Regions from separate parts of the Homo sapiens genome. Here region 1 is linked to region 2. Evidence: fine-mapped expression QTL. A gene starts in region 2. The other region holds a variant in brackets. All regions are shown on one strand. Distances are from middle to middle.

The links. PIP is the estimated chance that this variant, and not a neighbour inherited with it, causes the effect.
Region 1: its variant is fine-mapped to the expression of YOD1 in whole blood (TOPMed, PIP 0.99).

Annotation. Positions count from the first base shown.
Region 1 is chr1:207,097,344-207,110,057 of GRCh38, reverse strand. C4BPA (complement component 4 binding protein alpha) reads right to left here and starts at 5,825. Exons shown (of 12, transcript NM_000715.4): 1 at 5,628-5,825. It overlaps C4BPB (complement component 4 binding protein beta), which reads right to left. Exons shown (of 7, transcript NM_001017365.3): 6 at 11,794-11,908; 7 at 10,065-10,269. The coding sequence ends at 10,129. The variant CCTT/T (reference allele first, on the strand shown) is at 5,128.
Region 2 is chr1:207,047,436-207,059,818 of GRCh38, reverse strand. It overlaps YOD1 (YOD1 deubiquitinase), which reads left to right and starts at 8,611. Exons shown (of 2, transcript NM_018566.4): 1 at 8,611-9,131; 2 at 10,096-12,383. The coding sequence starts at 8,789. The coding sequence ends at 10,799. PFKFB2 (6-phosphofructo-2-kinase/fructose-2,6-biphosphatase 2) reads right to left here and starts at 6,544. Exons shown (of 15, transcript NM_006212.2): 1 at 6,453-6,544; 2 at 5,017-5,118. The coding sequence starts at 5,101. RefSeq lists enhancers at 6,614-7,253, 8,477-9,047.

The DNA of each region.
Region 1 (12,714 bases), 50 kb before region 2:
AGTACCTAGCCTGCGCCTCATGAAGTTAAAGTGCTCACAAAATGTGCATTGAATTTAAATCCAAAAGCTCCTAGTGATAACGTGTGTTCCAAAGAAAAGTAGTACTGTGCCATATCAGTGTCTCCCCTTACAGTGTATGCTTTGTTAAGGACTGATTTTACCTGATTTTAAAGCAAGGCAAACACCTGTATTTTAATGAGAACTGGCCCAAATAATTTTACTCTAGGCTCTTCCATTCTTAAACTGAAGTCATCATATCATCAACTAGTCAAGGGAGGACAGTGAAGGAGGGAAGCAGTAGGCAAAAACTGGTTCTCCTCCTTCCACAGGTTATGACAGGAGATACAGACAAATGCAGACCCTACACTGTGATGAGGAAGTTATTTCACTCCCTTTACTTCATCCTCACACCTAGGCCATGGCCACAGAGCTGGGGACAGAGGAGGACAGTGTGGCCAAGACCTTGGGCATGGGCTCTGGAGTCACACCCAGAACATGTGAGTTGGCGTCCTGGCTCTACCACATGGGAACCGAGTCCCATGGACAAAACACTCAGTTCCTCTAAGCCTCAGTTTCCTTTATTATAAAATAAGAAGGATAACTGTAATTATATCTCGGAATTTCTGAGAGGGGCTTGGCATGGTGTGTGGACAGCACATAGTAAACATTCAAAAGAAATTATAGGGAAGAGTTTCATAGAATTGGCATTGGAATGTCACTCTGTCAGAAGCCAAACTCCTGGATGTCAAAACATTGTCATCATAATGATTTAAAATTGCAATAAATGGTTGCATCACCAGGGACTTTAATTACACCCCAGTGCAGAGGAGCATCCACTGAACTTCCGGCTAGAAGCCCTGGATCTGGTCTCCACTGTGGCCTTTGGTACAGTGAGATCTAATGTGTCATGCACAGCAGAGGAATGCTGGGGCCTCTGGGGCTGTCCTGGGGCTTTGTCTTCCCTTGCCCTCAACTATCTTCCTGAAAGGAAGTCATCCACATCCATAACTTTAATCATCATACCTGAATCACCCACAGGTCAGACGCGGTAGCTCACGCCTGTAATCCCAGCACTTTGGGAGGCTGAGGCGGGCAGATCACGAGGTCAGGAGTTCAAGACCGGCCTGACTAACATGGTGAAACCCCGTCTCTACTAAAAATACAAAAATTAGCTGGGTGTGGTGGTGCACGCCTGTAATCCCAGCTACTCAGGAGGCTGAGGCAGGTTAATCGCTTGAACCCGGGAGGCAAAGGTTACAGTGATCCGAGATCACACCACTGCACTCCAGCCTGGGCGACAGAGAGACTCCGTCTCAAAAATAAATAAATAAATAAAATGAATCACCCACAGACCTCTGGGCCTAATTGTCTCTGGTTCATGCAAAAACTTCCATGCTCCATAAATTCAATTGTTAATAATTATTTTATTCTGTCTTATTCCTTCCTCCGTGTAAGTTTTAAGCTATTCAGGCTTGTCTTCTTTACTCTGGTTGCTAACTAGTTAAATTCTGGTGCTCAAATTACGTCTTTCTAAAGGCAATGAAATAAATCTCTGTAAAATAAGGAGGAACTCTTTTCCTCTGCAGCTGCAAAAAAGCAGATGATAATCTACGTGACAAAACTGACCTTGCAAATGTTTTTTCTAACAAAGGAGTCGTTCCTGGATTTTAGAGATTGCTCTGCCACATGACAGTAATTTTAACCTCAGAAAAGTGTAATTCTGACTGGTTATCTTAGTGAATTTTTTTTTCTGGAATAATATTTAAATAAACATTTCTGTTTACTGAAAGTTATAAGTGCTTGTGAGTTTTCCTTGCCAAATCCAGAAATAATTATTACACTTTCCTCTTTATCTGCAAACTTGAAAGTAAACTAAAACTTTTTGACTCTGTTAGATTTCTCATTTAAGCAAATAATAATAATAATAATAATTTAAGTTAAAATTCCCAAGGTTCAAATCAATATTTCCAATCACTTCATTTGTATCTCCCAGGCACCTTGAATTTAACATGTTTCAAACTAAATTCACTATGTTCCTCCAACACTACTTAATATCTGTGCTTTCTGTCTCAGTGAAGGTGACAATCTCCACCCAGCCTCCCAGACTAGAAATCCAAGTCATTATTGCCTCCTCTGTCTCACCTCCTTGCACTATTCAGAGTCGTCAAGTCCTATCAAGTTGGTCATAGCAGCTGCACCAGAATCTGCCACTCTCTCCAACACTCCACTTCCATAGTCCAGGTTTAGGTTCCTATAATTCCCTTCCCCTCACCCTAGACCACTGCAAAAGCCTTCAAACATTTATAAGCCAGCTTCCATGTTGATGCCATTATGTCCCTAAAAAGCAATTTATGTGTTGTTACTCTGCTTAAAAACATTCATGGTTCCCAGTTTCCATAGGTTCCCCTATCTGTCCCAGTTTTCCCATCATTTCTCACTTAGAACACCATGCTTCAGTCTCAAGGAGGCACTTACCCTTCCCCAAAAACATTCTGGATTTCTTTTTTGAGACAGGGTCTCACTCTGTGTCACCCAAGCTGGAGTGAAGTGGTGCAATCACAGCTCACTGCAGCCTCAACCTCCTGGACTCGAATGATGCTCCCACCTCAGTCTCCCCAGTAGCTGGGACCACAGGAGCGTGCCATCACACCCAGCTAATTTTTTAATTTTTTGTAAAGACAGGGGTCTCACTATGTTGCTCAAGCTGGTCTTGAACTCCTGGCCTCAAGTGAACCTCCCACCTCGGCCTCCCAAAGTGCTGGAATTATAGGCGTGAGCCACCATACAAAGCCAGGATTTTTTTAAAAAACACCTGCAAGCATTTGCAGTTAATGTCTCCCATGCATTAATGCTCTTACCTCCAACTTCTCCTTTACTCACTATTCCTTTACTCACTATTCAGATCAAATGTCACCTCCTTGGTGAAGCATTGCCTGACTTCATCATGAAATGCCAGTGTTTTCTGTTCTTCTAGTACTTGGCTAATACCTTAATTGTAGCATTGTTTTGTATCCTAACTATCTATTTGCTTTTGCCTCCCGAAATACATTGTGAATTCCTTGAAGACAAGGAAGGTGTTTATTCAACTTTCCATCTCTAACGTGGTATTGTAATTGGTCTATATAACCCCGTGACTCCTTTGTTAAAAAAAAACATTTGCAAGGTCAGTTTTATCACGCAGATTATCATCTGCTTTTTTGCAGATGCAGAGGAAGAGAAAAGAGTTCCTCCTTATTTCGCAGAGATTTCTTTCACTGCCTTTAGAAAGACCTAATTTGAGCACCAGAATTTAACTAGCTTAAAACTTACACAGAGGAGGCCGGGTGCAGTGGCTCACGCCTGTAATCCCAGCACTTTGGGAGGCCAAGGCAGGCAGATCACGAGGTCAGGAAGTCGAGACCATCCTGGCTAACACGGTGAAACCCTGTCTCTACTAAAAAGACAAAAAATTAGCTGGGCGTGGTGGCGGGCGCCTGTAGTCCCAGCTACTCGGGAGGCTGAGGCAGGAGAATGGCCTGTGAACCCGGGAGACGGAGCTTGCAGTGAGCAGAGATTGCACCACCGCACTCCAGTCTGGGCAACAAAGCGAGACTCCGTTTCAAAAAAAAAAAAAAAACTTACACGGAGGAAGGAATAAGACAGAATAAACAATAATAAATCTAAAAGGAATGAAAGTCAATTTAATTTTATCTTTAGAATGAGAATGACTGTCTCACTGAGGACCAAATGAAATAATGTGTGTGAAATGCTTTGTCAGTTTTGAAGAGAGATAATACAGTGACTAGACTTCCCTAACAAACCATCAGGATGCATCCTAACTCTTCTCCAACTACGGCATTTGCAGTTCACCATAACTACTCCTGGTGGTCCCTCAGCAGAAACCAGCTGGCCACAGAGTATGGGAATGGAGGCTAGAACTTGCGAGCTGAGAAGACACAAGTTGGAGTTCCAGCAATACCACAGTCTAAGTCTGTGATCTTGAAGAAGCTATATCAGCTTCTTGGATATCAGTTCCCTCCATCTCTAAAATAATGACATTAAACCTAGATGAACAAATTCTGCAATTCTGTAACTGCTCACTGAAAAGCTGAGACTACTCTAGCCAACTTTCATATTTCAAGGACTTCACCTTTTAAATTCCTGCAGAAATGGAACCAACTCAAGAACTTTAGTCAGCATGGCGGGTCCCTTGTGAAAAATAATATCAGCACTTAGCAATGCAGTGCAATTTGAGAGTCACTGGAAAAATCTTTAGTCCTCAAATTTCTCCTTCCATGAGAAGTTACTTTTTAAGTTAATATTTATTTTGTCTAACTTCCCCCTTTTAAAATGCAGATACCTTGTGAAAGGATAGTATTTTTCTCCAGTCTCGGGCTGAGTGTCTTCTTCCTTATACCTGGGCTCTCAATTATATCACTTACAAACTCCAGAAAGAACTGGCTCCCACACTTTCCCCACCCTTCCTAGAATCTCTTTTTTTTTTCTTTTTTTTTTTTTTTTGAGGTGGAGTTTCACTCTTGTTGCCCAGACTAGAGTGCAATGGCACGATCTCAGCTCACCCCAACCTCTGCCTCCCTGGTTCAAATGATCCTCCTGCCTCAGCCTCCCAAGTAGCTGGGATTACAGACATGTGCCACCATGCCTGGCTAATTTTGTAATTTTAGTAGAGACAGGGGTTCTCCATGTTGGTCAGGCTGGTCTCGAACTCCCGACCTCAGGTGATCCGCCAGCCTCGGCCTCCCAAAGTGCTGGGATTACAGGAGTGAGCCACCGTACCTGGCCAAATCTCTTTATTTTTCTATCAGCCCCTTTATTCTGTGCTCATACTACATTCAAACATATCTCTAAGCTTAATGCCAACCTTCTTTGATGCTTCTGCCTCTTCTGTAGTCTACTTTTTATTCTTTTGGTGTTACCATATTTAGAGATAGAATAGGAATCAGCAAAGAGACAAGTGGTTGAAGAATTAAAATGAGGACCAGAATGGTACTGTATCCTGGCCAACCAAGGAAGAAGAGAATTTCAAGAAGGAAGGGTTATCAGCATCGTCAAATTCAGAAAGTAAAGAAGATGAGGACGACTAAGACTGCTAGCTTCAGAAACCAACTGGAGGCTGGCCAGTGTCCT[CCTT/T]ATTACCAAATCTAAACATCTTTGCTGTCAGTGGTGGAGGAGATTTGGAGTGGTTAATCAAATCTCAAAATAGAAATGGCCCCAGTTTTCAGAATGTAGACTAAGAAAAGCAAGCTTCCTGTGAACCCTTTGAAAAGTCTGATTGACCCCTTGCCTCAACTCTGATGTGGGAAGGTGGTGAAAGATCAACAAACCAACACATCTGTCTTTTAGATACAGTAACAAGAGCAACACCTTACACCTCTTCTTCTTTAGCTTATTTTATTAGAATGCAATATTATTCCTCCATTTATAATTTTTAAAACTTGAGGTTCAGATAGGGTTTAAAGTACGTCTCAAGTCTTACATCCCCCTAATACAGTGCTCCTGAAAAGATTTCTGCTGAAAACACCTCCAAGCTTTTGTCTCTGTTTTATCCTTCTAATCCTGCACTCCTTAAAGGGCCAAACCACCAGCCTTTCCTCCAAGCTTCCCCAAGGGTTTAGTAGTCCACCGACCTTTGGTAGTTGAGGAAGAGCAGAAGACTCTATGATGATATCTGGGATAGTTTCTCAAAGAAGAAAACTGCCTTGATCTATGTAGTCCTGGTTCCTCCCCAGATCAGAGTTTATCATAATACCCTGAAGTTGACTGGTAATTGCTCCACCAAAGAGTCCCTGAATTTCAGCCATGTGGTTGGCTGGTCAAGGACGGTTGATGGAAATAGATGGGCAGAAACTTTTGACGGGCCCAATGAATGATTAACAGCAGAAATAAAGCAGCACTGTTTACCTAAGCTCCTTCCTCTTTGCTAGTCCTCATTCTTCGTAACATGTCGCAATCGTTTATTTTCTCCTCTGCCAACCATTTCCCCTAAGTGGAAAGGTAATTTGAATTTGAAGCCAGAATTCTTTTTTCTTTTCATAAACACATAAGGGTTATGGCAAGACACAGTCCAGCTAGCCTGGAAACCTTGGATACTGCGAGGTTCAGAGAGCCTCCGCAAAAATGATCCACTTTCCATGACACTAGGTCCAGTATGCTTTCCTGGAGTTTGAAAACTGATATTCTTGCCCAGAGCTCGTCTCTATCCCACCCCAAGGAATTACAAAAGGTGGGGAATTTATCAAACATGCATTGGGTTTCCACTATGTGCTGAGTTATCTAGAACGTATTTGGAGTTCAGCAAATGTTAACTGCTACTACATGTCAGGCACCAGAGGGCCTCCAAAAATTGATCTATCCAGTGCGCTCAGAAGAACGCAATGAAGGACCGGCCATGTTTCCTCTCGCATAGATCTAAAAAGACCACAAGCACTTACATAGTCCAATTAAGCTACTAATCCTCAAGGTTAAGATTTGTGTGCTCAGAAGATTGCTATTAAAAGGCAATTCTTTCTGAGAACTTCACTTTTTCTGTAATAAATACTGAAAGTCCCAGAAGAGTTTCAGAAAAGGAACTAAACTACAACAGGTTGAGTTAATCAAGGAAGTTTCTACAGAAGATGTGAGATTTGGATAAAAGGTAGAAATTATTAGATAAAAGTGGTAAGGATATTAGATGTAAAGAAACCATGCGCTAGGTCACCAAGGTGAGACACTGATTTGACCAGAATGAAGATAGAGGAGGATTCCAGATTGCACAGTCTTGAGACTAAATTGGAAGAAATATCACCTTTAAAGCTGCTATTTCTTTAAAGTACCGTTTTCCAATGTATTGAAGTCCTTTCGTTTACTTTCCACAGTGACTCTTGCAGATTTTTCTCTCCAGGTCACCAAATTGTCACATTCCCTCTCAGCAGATGCTCTTACCTCCTACTTTACTAAAAATCATTCTACCTTAGCTTCATCAATGTCAAATTTTCCCTCCTATTCACTCCTCATTCCGAGGAGAATTGTTTCTTCTTTTCCTGCCTCATTTTCAATGCATCTCTCATCCTGAAATGTCCCTTCAATTTTGCCAATACCTCAAATTCCACCTTTCTTCTTTAGTGTGATGCTGAACTTCTCAAAGGTGTGACTTGTTCTACCTGCCTGTTCTTTCTCATTCATCACTCCACCTGTTGCTTTCCCATCTGGCTTCTACCACTCTTCTACTGACATGTCTCTCTGAGGCACGCCCTTAGGTCCAAGTCCAAAATATCTTTAATTCATTTCTTAGGATCTGTCTGCAGCCTTTGTCACTGCTGATCATTTCCTTTCTGAAACTCTCTTCTCCTTTGGCTTCCATGACACTAAACTTACCTGATTCCCTTAACTTAACTAATTTCTCTTTCTTAGTTACTGTTACCTTCTCTTCCTCCTTCTCATTCCTAAATATAGATATATCTCAGGCTCTTCTTTTTTTAAAAAAATTATCTTCGCAATTTTAATGATCTTGCCTTCTGTCACAGCTTTAACTATTACCAGTAAGAAGACTAGCCAGCACTACATTATTATTTCTGATTACTCTCCGAAACTCAAGACTTACTTTCTTAGGTTTTGTTTTTTTTTTCCCCCCACTGGACATCTTGCAAGCACTTCACCCTCAGCACATCCAAAGAGGAATTTCTCATTTCCGGCCAACAAGCTTCACTTTCTGACCCCAGCTTTTTCTGACCTCTGGTTCTCGGGAATAAAATTTCAGATTCACTTTTGAACTCTTCCTCTCCCTCACCCTTCAATGTTTGATTAGTTGACAGGTTGTTTTGATACAAGTTTTCAATATCTCTCGTGTCTGCTGCTGCTTTTTCATTTCTGCTGCCACCAAACCAGTTCAGGTTGATAATGCCTCCCATATGGACTATTGTAGGAGTCCTTTCGTTGGTTTCTCTTAGTTCTTTTCCCTCATCAACCAATACTACAACCAACATTGTGAGAGAAATCTTTCTTTATGTTCTGTCCTTATTACTTCATTGTTTGCAAGGCTTCCATGTCTTCATGGTCTGACTGCCAAAAAACAAATGTATATTCTCTGCCTACCAAAAACAAGTGTATATTCTCTAGCACGTCATTCAAAAGCCTCCATAAACTGGCTTTGACTTATCTTTCCAGCCACCTTCTCTCTCACCAATTTCCATGCTTCATCTAGGCCAGTCCAGGCTATGTGCAAGTTCCTAAACATATCCCATTTTTTCTGCCTCTGTGCAATGCCTTCTAAAATTATTATTAGAAATTCATTTTACAACATTAAAAAGTTTTAAGAGAATAAACACTTATAATTTCATATTCTAAGACAAATGTTTTTATCTGTGCCTATTATTGTCTAATCCTTTCCCACAAGAATAAAGGTTTTACATAAATGCAATCATAAGCCCTTGTTATTAAATATTCTATTTTTACTTAAGATTGTATTTTTAAGATTTTCTACTTCCTCATATTTATCACCATATAGGTCTGCATTACATTTAAAGTACCATAATTTATTCAAAATTTTCCTAAGAGTAGACATTTCAAATGCTCATAAGATCCTCCTAGATAGATAATATGTACAAATAAGAAGTAGCTTCAATTTCAAATCATTTTCCTCCAGTTAGATTAATCCTAGGAATGAATTTACTTGGTTAAAAATCTTATTATTGGCCAGGCGTGGTAGCTCATGCTTGTAATCCCAGCACTTTGGGAGGCCGAGGCGGGCAGATCACCTGAGGTCAGGAGTTCGAGACAGCCTGACCAACATAGGGAAACCCCGTCTCTACTAAAAATACAAAATTAGCCGGGCATGGTGGCGCATGCCTGTAATCCCAGCTACTCAGGAGGCAGAGGCAGGAGAATCGCTTGAACCCAGGAGGCAGAGGTTGTGGTGAGCTGAGATCACGCCATTGCACTCTAGCCTGGGCAACAAGAGCGAAACTCCATCTCAAAAAAAAAAATTGGTTTTAAATCTTATTATTGTCTTACTCCATTTCTCAAATATTCTTTCCAACTGGAATGAGCTCTTTAATCTTTGTCTCTAATTCTCACTTACTTTTGAAGGCCCAAATAACTGTGACTTCTTCCTTGACAATATTCCTGCCTCCTCCTCCCAGACAGAAGTGAACCTCCTCTCATCTGAGCTCTCATAGCCCACTGTTGTCTGAAAATGTTTAGTTCATTCTAACCACTCTAAAATAATGCTACGTGTGTACATGTCTTGTGCCTATTAGTAGACTCTGGGGTACTCAAGAGTCCATCTCTTATTCCCCTTCATAACTTTACCTAGCGATTTTCCATTATTTCAAGCTGGCTTATATATTTTGGTTGCACTTTATCTAGATATCCTACGTGTTTCAGGTAGCAGTCAGGACGAGAGGTGGGAGAAGCTTGTCATGCCAGCTCAGTATGACATTTTGATTGAAAGCCTTAGGATTCTTATTTCTTCTACCCTCTAAAAAAGGAGAATTGTAAGTAAAAAATAATATAAAATTTTTGTTTCTAAAAAAGAGAAGAAATATATTCACTTGTGTTGCACCATCTCTAATTTATCATGCAGGACCAGGTTTCATTCAAGAGGCAGTAAGCAATTTTCCTGCAGCTTTGGAAACCTGTTTCCGTAAGCCAGATGTGGGCAAGACTGGGAGGAGAATTTGGGTCCTAGCTCTCCTTCTGTCCCAGTGGGTCATTTTTAAGGATGTAACTATTCTAAGCATCTTTTCCAAAATGGAAGGTTAATTTTTGCCTCATAAGTTGCGGTTAGTTTTGGTTTCATAATTCATGGTCTCATGTTAAAATACGAGTTACTCTCTCGGCTGAGATCAGAGTTTTCCATTCTCCTTACAGACTGGAAATTAAGCCCTCTATTCTCCAATAATATGTTGCTAATTCTGGCCTTAGACAACCACTACATTTGGCCTTTTCACATTCTGAGAACAACACACACACACACACACACACACATACACACACACACACACACACACACACACACACACACACATGGTGCATTATACAACTGCTGTTGGCAATTTCAGCCCAATAAGAGGTAAATCTGAAACCAATTTCAGAACCAAGAAGAAAATTTATTCATAGGTTTATTTCTATTACATCTGCTCAGCTGTAGTGTTACAACAATTTTGCCTTCAACTCAGCTTTCTTCAGCTCCAGAGAATATTTTAGCTCCTCCATTGTCATGCCACTTTCCTTTAATTGTTGCATAAAGTTCTCCATGGCTTCGCAGAGGTTCTTACTCTCCTGAAAGGCAAGCTGAAGAAAGAAAATTTTTCACAAGTTACAACATAAGGACTGAGACCCAGCTATATACTCTGAAGCCAGTGAGCAGCAGTTAGCTCTCTGAATGGGGGCTCAGAACCAGGCTAGCTTAAGTAAAGATTTGGGTTTTCAACATGGCAAATCATTTATATTTTCTGGCTTAAATATACTTATTAATATTATCCCAGTAATAAATATGAACTAAAAGAAGAATCTCAATGAAAATGGATCTGTTCAGTGTTGTTTGTTTAGTTTTGGAGCCTAGAAGAATTTTAGAGACTTTTCCAATTCTCACGCATTGTGCTTATGTGCTTTGCTCTATAACAGGGATCCCCAACCCCAGGGCCACAGACCGGTACCGGTCCACGGACTATTAGGAACTGGGCCACACAGCAGAAAGTGAGCAGCGGGCAGGCAAGCAAAGCTTCAGCTGTATTTATAGCCACTCTGCTTTGCTCACATTGCTGCCTGAGCTCCACCTCCTGTCAGGTCAGAGGTGGCATTAGATTCTCATAAGAGCGTGAAACCTATTGTGAACTGCTCATGCGAGGGATCTAGGTTGACCCCTCTTTATGAGAGTCTAATGCCTGGTAACCTGTCACTGTCTCCCATCACTCCCAGATGAGAATCTAGTGCCTGATGATCTGTCACTGTCTCCCATCACTCCCAGATGAGAATCTAATGCCTGATGATCTGTCACTGTCTCCCATCACTCCCAGATGAGAATCTAATGCCTGATGATCTGTCACTGTCTCCCATCACTCCCAGATGAGAATCTAATGCCTGATGATCTGTCACTGTCTCCCATCACTCCCAGATGAGATTCTAATGCCTGATGATCTGTCACTGTCTCTCATCATTCCCAGATGAGATTCTAATGTGTGATGATCTGTCACTGTCTCTCATCACTCCCAGATGAGAATCTAATGCCTGATGATCTGTCACTGTTTCCCAACACTCCCAGATGAGAATCTAATGCCTGATAATCTGTCAGTTTCCCATCACTCCTAACTAGATGGGACCCTCTAGTTGCAGGAAAACAAGCTCAGGGCTCCCACTGATTCTACATTATGGTGAGTTATATAATCATTTTATTATATATTACAATGTAATAATAATAGAAATAAAGTACACAATAAATGTAATGCATCTGAATCATCCCCAAACCATCCCCACTCTCCCCACCCCCATCCGTGGAAAAGTCATCTTCCATGATACCCATCCCTGGTGCCAAAAAGGTTGGGAACCACTGCTCTATAAGGCACATGAGACAACAACTTCTACCAACAGGGTCTCATGAGGTATTTGTGATGATGGTAGTGAATGGGAACTTCCAACTTCCATTTATAAAAATGTGAGTTAATAGTTTATGAGTCCCTTCTACAGCCAGGCCAAGGCCAACCCATTCAAAAGCAAAATGTCCCACATTAAACAGATATATACTGAGCATATGCCAGGAGTGATGCCAGGCCCTGGAGATCCAGCTGTGAACAAGACAGATATGAGCCTCCTACTTACAAGTGCCTTCTCACACTCTGGTTTGGGAGCTTCCTGGATCAACTTGCAGACTGGAAGTGCACTGCTCCACTCCCCATCAACGCATTGCTGCTCCTGCACGCCCACTAAGTAGTACCTGAACAGAAATTAGAACAAGGCTTAGCTTTTCCACTTTCTGAATTGGGTAATGGAGACTGGTTTTGTGTAGTTGTATTTCAGTATTTCATGCTGTGATGGAATCCACCTCCCTGCCCTTGAGCCTCAATGCATGCTTAAGTTATCTCGGTATTACAAAGCAGTTCAAAGTAAAACCATTTTCCTGGAGGTAGGAGAGGACCCAAGTGATGAGTCAACCCATAAAACATAGAGAAGTGAGAAATTCTGAATCAGGTGTTTACACACCCAGGTTTTGGGTGGGGAGAGTGATAGAAGCACTTTATCATTCAATAACCTAAAAAGGCATCTGGCATCTAAGCTCTAAAAAGGAGTAGAAAATGAGAGACACCTGCAAATAAATCTTAGCGAAGGGGCTAAAAAGGAGCAATTGCTTTTCATCAGAAAAATATGAGAGTTGCCTGCAAAGTGCATTGAAGGTATATAACGAGATCGAAATGCCAGTGAGGCCACATGACTCTGAGTTAATTAGGGGGCTTTAAGGGTCTATACACTAAGTCTTTATATTTCTGCACTTCTATGTTTGTTTTTTAGTATTTATATTCTCTGATTTTTTTTTTTTTTTTTTTTTAGAAAAACATACATTTTAGGCCAGGCACAGTGATTCATGTTTGTAATTCCAGCACTTTCCAGGACTTTGGGAAACCAAGGTGGGAGGATCACTTGAGCTCAGGAGTTCAAGACCAGCCTGAGCAACATAGGGAGACCCTGTCTCTACAAAACCTTAAAAAATTAGCCAAGCGTGGTGACCCATGCCTGTAGTCCCAG
Region 2 (12,383 bases):
AAATGTAGAAAGATCTCAATGGAGAAGTGGGAGGAGGGGCCCAGGTAGAGAACCACCCTCGGAAGGAAAAGTTTCCTAAGGGTGTTTGGCAAGAAGTACTCAGAGTGACCCTAGTGGTGAGGAGGGAGAAATGGAGGCCCAGACCTGGGGTCAGAGGGCTTGGCTTTTAGTCCTTTACCCACTGCACACATGGAAAATTCCTGAGTCTCAGCAGGAGCCCCTCCAAGGTAGGTAAAGGAGCAACATAAGTGATTTTCATCTGTGTTCAAATAGGGAGCTTAAAGGCAAGCAAACTGTACCCTGAAGCCTCAGCTGGCATTAATCCCTGATCACTGGCCCCTAACAAGCAGATAGCCTCTGCATGGGATCAGCTGTCTCAGGTTTAAGTAGTAAAATCCCCTGAGTCTTCACTTTCTCCAGCTCGGCTCAATGCCTGCTCTCAATCCCCCATGATTTGGCTCATTACCTGCACTTCTAGGCCTGCTTTGTCCGCACCTTCCAGCCCATTAGGCACTTCCCCCGAAGGTCCTATTACCCTCCCTAAAGTTTAAAATGAACTGATACTTGGGAGCTGCTCTGAAGGCAACCAGGGAACCAGCTGCTCTTGTTTACCCATGTGGACAGAGAATGCTAAGAACAACAACAACAAAAAACTGCATCCACTGGGACCTCCCAAGAGCCCTCCAGCAACGCACCTCTCGCCTCTGTCCAGAATACACTTAAGCACACCTGCTACAACCAGGGCTTCTCATTTTCTGGAGTACAAAACTAAACCACACTTCCTATCTCAAATTACCACACTGGCAAAAGTAGGAACATTCTGTCCTGCCTGTTAAAAAACAAAACCACCTGCCACTGCCACCTGATTAATTTCAGAGACAATGTAACCCATCTCTTGATAGACAATGGAAAACTGTTTCAATCCTGAAATTCTCTTCCACCTTCTTTAAGCCAGGTTCAACTCCTTTTCTTAAACTTAAACTCATTTTCCTTTCATAAACTTGCTTAGATAAAATGAAGACTTGAGGCTGGGCGCAGTGGCTTATGCCTGTAATCCTCACTTTGGGAGGCCAAGTTGGGTGGATCGCCTGAACCCAGGAGTTTGAGACCAGCCTTGGCAACATGGTGAAACACTATCTCTACTAAAAATATAAAAATTAGCCAGTCTCATAACCCGGTCTCAAAATAAATAAATAAATGTATTTTAAAAAAAAGATTTACAAAAAAAATGAGGACTTGATAACTTCCCTCGTGTAAATGGAAAAACTCAAGCCTGGAGAAATTAAGAGCTTTGCCCATGGTCCCACAATAGACAGTCAAGGTCAGGGTTCTGACCAGTCTCCTGATCTCATGACTGCCCATTCAGTCCCAGCTGCCAGCTCCTGTGCCTCATGTCAGCACTTGACAAAGGTTCCCTCACGGTAAACACAACTTGCTCTCCATTCTAATCCTGAAGGATGGTCTAGGAGAGCAATGGTTCCCAGCCTTTTCAGGACCCAGGACGTCTTCTTTTATTGGCTCTAAAGAGGCCTAATATTTAGAAATATGCTGCCCATAAAGCATGTTTCATTAGTGACATTTTATCTTTATTCATCAGAAGTCAGAACTGCTGATTATCTCCTGCCAGTTGACAGGCATGAAATAACCAAGTTCGTATAACTACGGTCAAACACTAAGAAAGCTGATGTTTCAGTTAACCACTATGGCTATAGTTGATGCTGCCCAATTTCCATCAAATATCTTAAAATATTGAAAACAGCTTACAATATAGAACTTCTTAGGAGAGCAAATTAGTAATACTGATGAACATTTCCAATGTGTCTATCTTTTCTATTATTTCTGTAGGAAAAGTTGCTGTCACAAATGTGCAAAGGTGTACGTGTAAGAATGGTCACTGCAGCACTCTTTGTGATGATGAAAAACTGGAAACAATTTAAATACCTATCCGTGGAAAGCTGGCATATCCATACAATGCAGAATGAGGTAAATCTGCATTTATCAACATTAAAAGGATGTCCACAAGACAGTAACTTATTTAAAAAAATAAAAAAGGAAATGGCAGCTGAACAGAATATGAACAATATGAACCTACCTTTATTAATAGGATATACCAGAATAAGATGTCTAAAAGAATCAAATTTGGAAGAAACAGGAGTCTTTTACTTTTCGCTTTCTAAATCCTTTCTGTAGTTTGAATTTTTTATGAACATACATTGCTTTTGTATTTAGGGAAAGGTACATGGAAGAATTTGTCTGTTCCAGAACTACTCAAAAAAAAAAATTAAAAAGAAAAAAAAAAAGCATGTAGATTTCTCCATTTCTGCTTTTTTTTTTTCCCCCTGAGATGGAGTCTCACTTTGTCACCCAGGCTGTAGTGCAGTGGCGCGATCTCGGCTCACTGCAAGCTCCGCCTCCCGGGTTCAAGCCATTCTCCTGCCTCAGCTTCCCGAGTAGCTGGGACTACAGGCGCCCGCCACCATGCCCGGCTAGTTTTTTTTTTTTTTTTTTTTTTTTTTGTAGTTTTTTTGTATTTTTAGTAGAGACGGGGTTTCACCATGTTAGCCAGGATGGTCTTGATCTCCTGACCTCATGATCCACCCTCCTCGGCCTCCCAAAGTGCTGGGATTACAGGCGTGAGCCACCACACCCGGCCCTCCATTTCTGCTTTCATAAGCCCTGAAACCAGTCCTCTGAGCACCGTAAAGGCACCTCGGCCAGTAGCCCCTCTTCGCCCCATCCCTGGAGCAGTTGAAGTCCCAGTAATGCTCCTTCGGAGGTTTTGGCTCCCTAAAGTCATTCTTCAGCCCTGAAATCCTCAAGCCCAGTCACTTCCCGGAGTCAAAGTTAGCCAACACAGGTGTAATGAGCAGCAAGGGAACAACGGTTAAGCTATTAATAAAGCAGCCGCTGATGTGAACACTAAGCTGCCAGGTGAACCAGCTCCAAAGTACAGCTCTATAGCAGAGGAAAAGGAAGTAAGTTAACACATATACTCATAACTTTATTTTCTCCTTTGACTATGTCTGCAACAGTCTCACAGCCCGACTGTGACGTGAGGAGAGAATAGGGTAAATAAATCACAGTGGCTTTAGGACACCTTCTTCTTCTTAGAGAAGAAAAAGGCATTTAGAGAAACTAGAGTATGGAAAAAAAGAGATTAGAGCCCAGAGCAGGAATTAGAGTCTAGAAGACAGGAAAGAAACCAGGGATTACTGCTTCCCTGACTTGAAAGCCCTCAAGGCAAAGGAACTACAGAAGAGTTAGGAAAGCAGGTAGAAGAGATTCCTACCATGGAGAAAAAAGCAAAGCTAGAAGGACTGACACATGGCATCGTGTAGTCAGAGACTCCCACAATTATCGATCCTGCCCCCCAGCCCCAGCTCTCTTTTGGATCAAGCACCCTAGTAACATTAGTGTACCTCCCTGTAAGAGGTGCATCCTAGATCCCCAAATCTGGGTTACAATATTGTCAAATAAGAGAAGAAAACATTTTTTACTGAAAAAATAATTATTCACAGCCCTCTTTTAAATAGTGAGCTTCCAATACAGCATTTGAGTATGATTCAATATAAACATTTCAGGAATAAATACAACAGGCAGATTGAGTCACCTGTGAAAAATAACACACATTAGATATATGCCCAACACTCTTCTAAGCGCCTTCCTACATTTAGTCATTTAATCCTCACATCACTCTTGGGGGAGACACTGTTAGTATTCCCACTTTTAAAAGGAGTAAACTGAGGCATGGAGAGAACAAGCAACTTGTTCAAGAGCTAAGAAGTCATAAACCCGGGATTCAAACTCAGGCAGTCTGACTCCAGAGGCTATACTCAAACATCATGCTATACTAGTTATCTCTCATGGGGTATTCTGCCCTTAGCACCTGGCTTCTTGCCCTGGCAGAGAAAAGAGACCCTAATTGTAGACCCTAACTCTGCCAACCCCAGTATCACATCCAGCCAGCTGCTTCTGTCCAGCAGGCTCCATGGGTGCTAGGTGAAGAGAGATTATCATTGTCAATCATGAAACTGACAAGGGCATGACATCAAGGTCGAGGCTCTGGGAAAAGCTTTGAACATGAGATAATTCCTGGTCTCATGCTGGTCGGCTGTTTCCACCTGCTGAGATATATATATTCCTTGACTAACTGGCTATATATATATATATATATATAACCACTGAAGTGAGAAGAACTGACTGACAGGATTCTGCAGGAATGGTGCCATCCAGAAGCAGAGGCAAGAGTTAGCATTCCTTGAAGTTCCCCAAAATATGTGGGGAACAGAGTCCCAGATCTTTTGGGAAGCTATGCAGCCTATGATGCTTAGAAATACAGATGCTTGGGGACAGGAAATGATGCTTCATCTCCTCGCAAACCCTCCTGCTGTTTCTATCTAAAAGACAGGCATAGAAATGAAAATGCTCATGTGAAAGCTGTCCTCAAAAAAATGAACCTATAGGGAAAATAGTTTACAAAGTACAAAGGCTAAACCTGTGAGAAAGTAAGATGCCCAAGACACTGTGAGAAGCCAAGTGTCAGGGCTCATTCCCCTCAGGCCTGTAGGAAGGAAACCAAGCAGCACTGGCTCCCATCTGCAATTTCTACAATGAGCAGCACTCTCCCAAAACTTAGCCCAACAGATAAAGCTGGTAACATTACCAGCTCCAAGTAATTCCTGCACCTGCAACTGTGCCTTACTCATTGTGTGTACAATAATGTTAGTTCTAACTTCCATCAGCAAGCCAGTGTGCAAACATCCCAGGAGACAGAGATTCAGTTTAAGAAAGCAGTAAGAAACTGCTGGACTACACCAGTAGTCAAGCCCCAAGAACAGACATTTCACTAAGTCTACTTGTTTTAGACAGGACATTCTACCCTGGAGACTTTGCATTAAATTTCCATGTCAAATAATTATTTATCACTCCCACCAAGCAGCAGAGTCCAGGATTATAACTATATTCCCAAGATAAAATGCTGAGAGAGAGCAGTCCCTCCTCTCTGCCAGAACTCACAACATTTCTTCTCTGACATTCGAAGATTTGGGGTTTTGGTTTCATAGCTGTTGTTGTTCTGTTCTGAGGAAGATGCCCCAGACATGGCAGCTCTTCAGATGTCTGAAACAGAGAAGTAGAATGTAAAAAAGGGAAGGGGAAGAAAGAAGACATAACTTAAAAAAAGTCAGTGCATTGGATCCGTGTGGTATAAGTAAAAACACCCTGGGCCAAGAGGCAGGTTCAGTCCTGTTTCTCCCAGTTAGCAGCTACTTCTCTAGCCCTCTGTTTCCTCACCTATAAAAAGAGTTGCACTAGAACCTTACATTTATCTTCTGACTTACGAGTCTACATTTACAGACGTTATCTTCTTCAGTCCTAACAATAATCTTGTAATTAGGCAGATTTTGCCACCATTATTTCTTCTCATTTTACAGATTGAAAATTTGAGATTCATCGAATTAAGTGTCCTGCTCAAGGTTTCATGACCTCAGATTCTAGTTTTAAGAATCTGGGCAGAGTAGTGGCAGCAGTTGGGGTGGGGTGGGTTATGTATAGACGAAGTACATTACCAGGAAATTAACTCCAATCTAACGGTAGGACTCAGTTTTGCAAACAGTGAGGCCGGGCACGGTGGCTCACTCCTGGAATTCCAACACTTGGGGAGGCTGAGGCGGGCGGATCAAGAGGTCAAGAGATAGAGACCATCCTGGCCAACATGGTGAAACCTCGTCTCTACTAAAAATACAAAAATTAGCCGGGCCTGGTGGTGCGCGCCTGTAGTCCCAGCTACTCGGGAGGCTGAGGCAGGAGAATCGCTTGAACCCGGGAGGCGGAGGTTGCAGTGAGCCAAGATCCCGCCACTGCACTCCAGCCTAGCGACAGAGCGAGACTCTGTCAAAAAAAAAAAAAAAAAAAATGAAAAATGAAAAAGAAAGAAAGAAAAGAAAAAAGTGAGGGACGTGGGAAAATCTCGAACATATTCCCTGAAGGAAAAACAGTAACTGGACCCCAAGACAGCCCTAGCACGTCGTCATTTCTCCTCTAGTGCATTCTCAAGCCCTGCTCCGCACCCTCTCCCTAGTTACCCCCGGGACTCAGTCTAAAGAACGCCGGAGCGCTGAGGTGGTAAATGACTTCCCCAAGGTCACCTCAGGAAGAGGGGTAAGCCCTGATTCAAACTGGAGTGGGAAAGTCCTGAGCTCATGCCCCCAATTCAGACAACAGGGGGCTGGTGAGGACGGAAGATCCTGCGCCTTCAAGAGCCTTACACGATTCCTTTACTGACCACACAAATCCTCCAACCCAAACACAGACTGTGGCTCCCGGTCCCAGAACGTCCGCGCTGCCTGCCATGCCTGGGGACCAGCACCTCTCCCCGCACTTCATCCGGGGGCACGCAGCCCCCACATCCCGCCCCGCTAGACCCTACCCGGGGCTGCGCAGCTGTGGCTCACCCTACGATCTCTCCTAAGATCCCTCCCTGCCTTGGCCCCGGCGCCTGCCCTGTAACGCGACCGAACCGAGCCGACAGCTTGTGGCCGGGACCGGCGCTACAGTCGCCGGCAAATCATGTGAGCCCGTCTGGCCCCGCCCCCTCGCGCGTAGGTCCTCACCTGGAGAGAATCATCCACCAATCGGGCGCCTGCAGGACCCAGGGGGCGGGGCAGGGTCGCAATCGCCTAACTGGCTCGGGAAGGCGGCTGGAAGTCGGAACCAGAGAGATCACAAGCTCCTGAGTTTCCCAGCGCCGAGGAGCCTGGTGGCACTGTTGCTTGGTAACTAATAGGGCTGGGGGCGGTGTTAATAAAAAGCTTGACTTTTTTCTGACTCTCGCGAGAGTAGACTATTCGGTAGGCGTCTTGAGAGCGGGTGTGCCGGGTGACGAGAAAATGCTGCAAAGATTAACGCTCTCATTCCTGAATCCCAGCAGAACCTCATTAGATCCATAAATGGGAACGTAAGCTTTAAAGATGTTTTTGCTAGAATAAACTACCACAACACTTGAGCTAATTATGCCTTAGGGTGTATACATACCCGGCTCCACAGGTCAGACGCTGTGACCTAAGAAAATCAACCACTCTCATCGTTGAACCAGAAGCTTCCCTGGACCCACCCATACACCCCATTGGAGTTTTTTTTGTTTTGGTTTGGTTTGGTTTTTGTTTTTTGAGATGGAGTTTTGCTCTTGTTGCCCAGGCTGGAGTGCAATGGCACGACCTTGGCACCGCAACTTTTGCCTCCCGTGTTCAAGCGATTCTCCTGCCTCCCAGTATCTAGAATTAAAGGCATGGACCACCACGCCCAGCTAATTTTGTATTTTTAGTAGAGACGGGGTTTCTCCATATTGATGAGGCTGGTCTCGAACTTCTGACCTCGGGTGATTCACCCGCCTCGGCCTCCCAAAGTGCTGGGATTACAGGTGTGAGCCACTGCGCCCGGCCACCCCGGTGGACTTCTAACCACTCCTACCTTCCCTCCTACCTACCCCCTAACCCAGGCTGTATCATCCGTTGCAGTCGTCTTGAAGAACCAAGGAGGAAAATTGCACCAGCAAAAAAAAATTGAGTCATGAAAGATGTGAAAAGATGGAAACATTACATATAATTTATTCAGAAGCAAAGTCTTTTACAGTGGAGGTGAGTTTGCACCAAGTGAACTACACTTTTCATAGTTGCCCCAGCGGGCCCGTTTGATGCTTGATAAACCCACTCTTGGCAAGTGGGACTTGCTGTCTGAATCCCGGCTGGATAAAGAACAATGAGTATGGATTTCTTGGAAAAGAGAGATATAAATTCAGGGATGTCTTTATTCCTCCTTCGCCTGGGAATTAAACTAATTCTTCCAAAAGTTCAAACAGTTATCTCCTCTTTAAGGCTTTTTACAACTCCCAGAGTGCTCTAGTTGCCCTCTCTATGTCTATACAACTCTGTCTTTATTCATTCAGCCAGTATTTGTTGAACACTTTTTATTTGCGAGGCACAGTCCTGGGTTCTAGGCATACACGTTTGAAAAGGTACAGATAATCTAGCATTATCACGTTGCTTTGAAATTCAGTGGCTGTGTGTCTCACACCCCACCCTGTCTCCCAACTGCAATGAATACTTGTTACAATGAAGGCAGGAATGAAGTCTTCATATTTGTATGCCCAGGAACTGAACTGGAATCTGATGACACGCGTTACACGACTCCTCCTTACACTGCCACCACCTGAATGAGGCAGCTGCCCTGGGCCCAGATGCTGACCTCATACTGTGCTTTCTGAAGTGGCAAATAGACGTTTTCAAGCACAGTCCCAGGGAGGCAGAAAGGCCAGTCTTTTGGCCCCTGGAACCCCAATGAGTCAATGTTTAATGCAGCCACGAGTCTAGTCACAAGTGTGATTGTTTTTGACTGGTCCTTTGACTCACTGACCATTCCTGGCATTCGTTTGCGTTGTGAACTATGATTCTGTTTCTCCTGGTGTAGTCTGGGTGTAGTGTGGAAGCCCCAATTTAATAATTTCCGACCTCACTAAGTGCAAGGTCACATTCCAATCTCCAGACCTTCATTCAGGAACTCCTTCCCCCGCCCTCTTTTCTTGAGCATATATGCTACCCACGCGGAGGGCACCTCACTCGCTCTATAGGTAGCAAGACCCGTTGTCCTTTAGGAATACGGAGGTTTACATCTTCGTTCTGAGGGTGGGGGAAAAATCAGTTGTCACTTTAAAAGAGTTCGCGCTTGCTAAGGTACTAAGGCAGAAGCCGCACCGAAGCGTCGCGATAACTGCAACCACCCGCAACTTCTCGCGATGTTTGGCCCCGCTAAAGGTCGCCATTTTGGAGTCCACCCGGCGCCTGGTTTCCCCGGCGGCGTCTCCCAACAGGCTGCCGGGACCAAAGCTGGCCCCGCGGGTGCCTGGCCTGTGGGCAGCCGGACCGACACGATGTGGCGGCTCCGCTGCAAGGCCAAGGACGGCACCCATGTTTTGCAGGGGCTGTCCAGCCGGACCCGGGTGCGGGAACTCCAGGGCCAAATTGCCGCCATCACCGGGATCGCCCCCGGCGGTCAGCGAATCCTCGTCGGATACCCTCCCGAGTGCCTGGATCTCAGCAATGGGGATACCATTCTGGAAGACTTGCCCATCCAATCTGGTAAGGAATCAGGGCTGGGGCCAGGGAAAGTCCCGGGAGGATGGAGAGGGGCGTGAGAGAGAACAAAACACCAGTCAAGGCAAGGTGGCTGTGAGTCGGCGGGGGGGCTTTGAGGCCAGGGGCGAGGATAGATCAAAGAACAGAGAATGCTGACGGGGGCCAGGGCAAGTGTCTAGCAACTCCTTGTCTTGACACAGGGTTGAAAGGGAACCCAAAGCCTTGAAGACCCCCTTCCCCATTCCGCTTTCTGGTCGGCTTTGAAACTATCCCATTTTGTTTTCCCTCGGCGTCCACAAAAATATAAAGTAGGGCCTATTTTCTCTGTCCTTATGTCTCTTTTTCCCTATATCACCGATGAGATCTCAAGGGTGCAGGATTTTTTTTTTCTTGATTCATTTTTGCAGTCCCCTTCGTAGATACTTCGTTTGACAGGCATACTCATTTTCGAGTTAGCTTTTAAAACACCCACTGAAAGCTCTTTCAATTTCTAACCAGCAGCAGTTATTTCTGTGCCATATCAAAACTTGAACATCAGTGTTTATAATTAAAAGCTTTCAGTTGCTGTATCAAGGATGTTGTAAACACTCTAGAGTAGATAAGTTTCCGGAGAAGGAGAACCCCCTAGCGGCCTACTCTGTAGTGAGCACCTTCTGTAAAATACTGTATAAGGAAAGGAAATTTTGTTTTTGAAATGTATCTTTTTAGGTAAGCTTGAAGTTGTTTACTCCAGACCCCTTCACTAAATTGGGATGCAACCTCAAGTGTTTTTTGTTCTTTTTTCATCTTTATGAAAATTCAGTGAACAAAGATTCTTACTGGTAACTTACTTGCAAAACTGTATTCTCCTTAGTAACCCCAGTTTATGCTTTAACTCCTTCAGTTTGTAATTTACAGACTTGGCTAGAGAACACTCGGTTTCTTCTGTAATTTCTTTGCAGATCGGGATTTGTTTTATTTTTAACAGGTGACATGCTGATCATTGAAGAAGACCAAACCAGGCCCAGAAGTTCACCTGCATTTACTAAACGTGGTGCTTCTAGTTACGTCAGGGAAACTTTGCCTGTGCTTACCAGAACCGTGGTCCCAGCAGACAACTCTTGCCTCTTTACTAGTGTGTACTATGTCGTCGAAGGAGGAGTCTTGAATCCAGCTTGTGCCCCTGAGATGAGACGCCTCATAGCACAAATTGTAGCAAGCGATCCAGACTTCTATAGTGAGGCAATACTGGGAAAAACAAATCAAGAGTACTGTGACTGGATCAAAAGGGATGACACTTGGGGAGGAGCAATAGAGATATCGATTTTGTCCAAGTTTTACCAATGTGAAATATGTGTAGTGGATACACAGACAGTAAGAATTGATCGTTTTGGGGAAGATGCAGGATATACCAAAAGGGTTCTGCTTATTTATGATGGCATCCACTATGATCCACTTCAGCGTAACTTCCCTGATCCAGATACACCTCCTCTGACCATTTTCTCCTCTAATGATGATATTGTTCTTGTACAAGCACTGGAATTAGCAGATGAAGCTAGAAGAAGGAGACAGTTTACTGATGTCAACCGCTTCACCCTGAGATGCATGGTATGTCAGAAAGGATTAACTGGACAAGCAGAAGCAAGGGAACATGCCAAGGAGACAGGCCATACCAACTTTGGAGAAGTGTGACCTATGCATGAATGAGGGTTGAAGCCTACTACCTCACACATCCAGAAGGCTCTGGGTTTTCCAATAAGCTATGGTAACCCTAAAGAACAAAGGATACAATGCTTGAACCATCCTTTTAACTTAAAACCACTAAGACACTGAAATTCCTTGTTAAGATTAAAATTAGTGTGCAAGTTTACAGATGTGTGTCTACAGTGGTAAACTGTACATACATGCCTCTTTCTGCTGGAGTGACAGAATAGGTGATCCTTGCCACCTACTGACACTGACCTGAAGGTTGAGATTGAGTATTATAAACTAGCACCCAGCAGCTTTAACTTGTAGAAGAAAGCATCACATTTTGGGTAATGTGGAAGGCCTCCTGTGAGTCCACTGGGCATACGATTGAGATTGAGTATTATAAACTAGCACCCAGCAGCTTTAACTTGTAGAAGAAAGCATCACATTTTGGGTAATGTGGAAGGCCTCCTGTGAGTCCACTGGACATTTACCACAGTGTCTCCAGTAACTGAGTCTTTTTAAAAACTCTGAATGAGTTAAGTTTCTAAATTATGAATTGATTCATCAAATGAAGATACTCAGAATTGTCCAAACTGATTTTATATTGCAATTTGGTAGACATTATAAATGTGTGCTTAACCACTGATAAGTACATCACAAGCAATTTTTACAGGGATGAGTCTCATCCTTGAGAATGTTATCACAAAACAGGAACTGATTGTGCCCTGTTTAAGATCTCTAGCATATAAAACGTAGAATGTATGAGGGAATAGGTGCCTGAGCAGCTTCCTGAAGCTTTAAAAGACCGTTGGCCTCGTGTTTTAATGCAATTCATGTATTGGTCTTTGTCACATTGGATAACATTTTAAAGTTAAGCAGGGTACTTTTTTAATTGAAATTCCTTGAAATTCGAGTCCTCAGTTTTTTCTTCATTTGCGTAAAGTTTATCGGGGGGAATTTAATTTTCTCAGCTTTTTGTTAAGAGCACTTCCTCCAAAAAATTTTTTTCAAGTAATAATGCTCTGCTTTGGGTTGGTTTTTGTAAGATTTTTTGCACACCTAAAGAGTGTTTGCTTTTGTGCTAGCCTTATCCCTCCACTAAAGTTATTTTAAATAATTTCACATTTCTGCAAATTAGCACTTTGCTTATCTGCAATCTTTTACTTTGATTTTTGAAGTTTTAAAGCAATTGGAGTAATACTGTTGAATGAACTAGTTTCACTTCCAAAATAGAAAAAATTGTAAATCCTTGCCTTATGCAGCTTTCTCAGAATTCTGCTTCTTCCTAGTACTAGATGTGTAGCCATTTGCTTAGTGGACTAATCCGCAAGGCACACCCTCTAAAACTTAGCTTCACTACAAGATCTTCCAGATAAAAGTTTTCTACCTCTTTTCTTAATTATTCTGATCAGGGATGCTAAATTATAATTTGTTATGTATTATCTCACATAATGTGAAGAGGCTTAATGTGAAGTTTTGTTATTTTGGTCTCTTTTTTATTAAGTATCTCACTTAGAAATTCAGTGGTATACTTTAAAGCACTTGGATCTTTTTCAGCATATCTGCCTAGCAAATGTTTTAAAA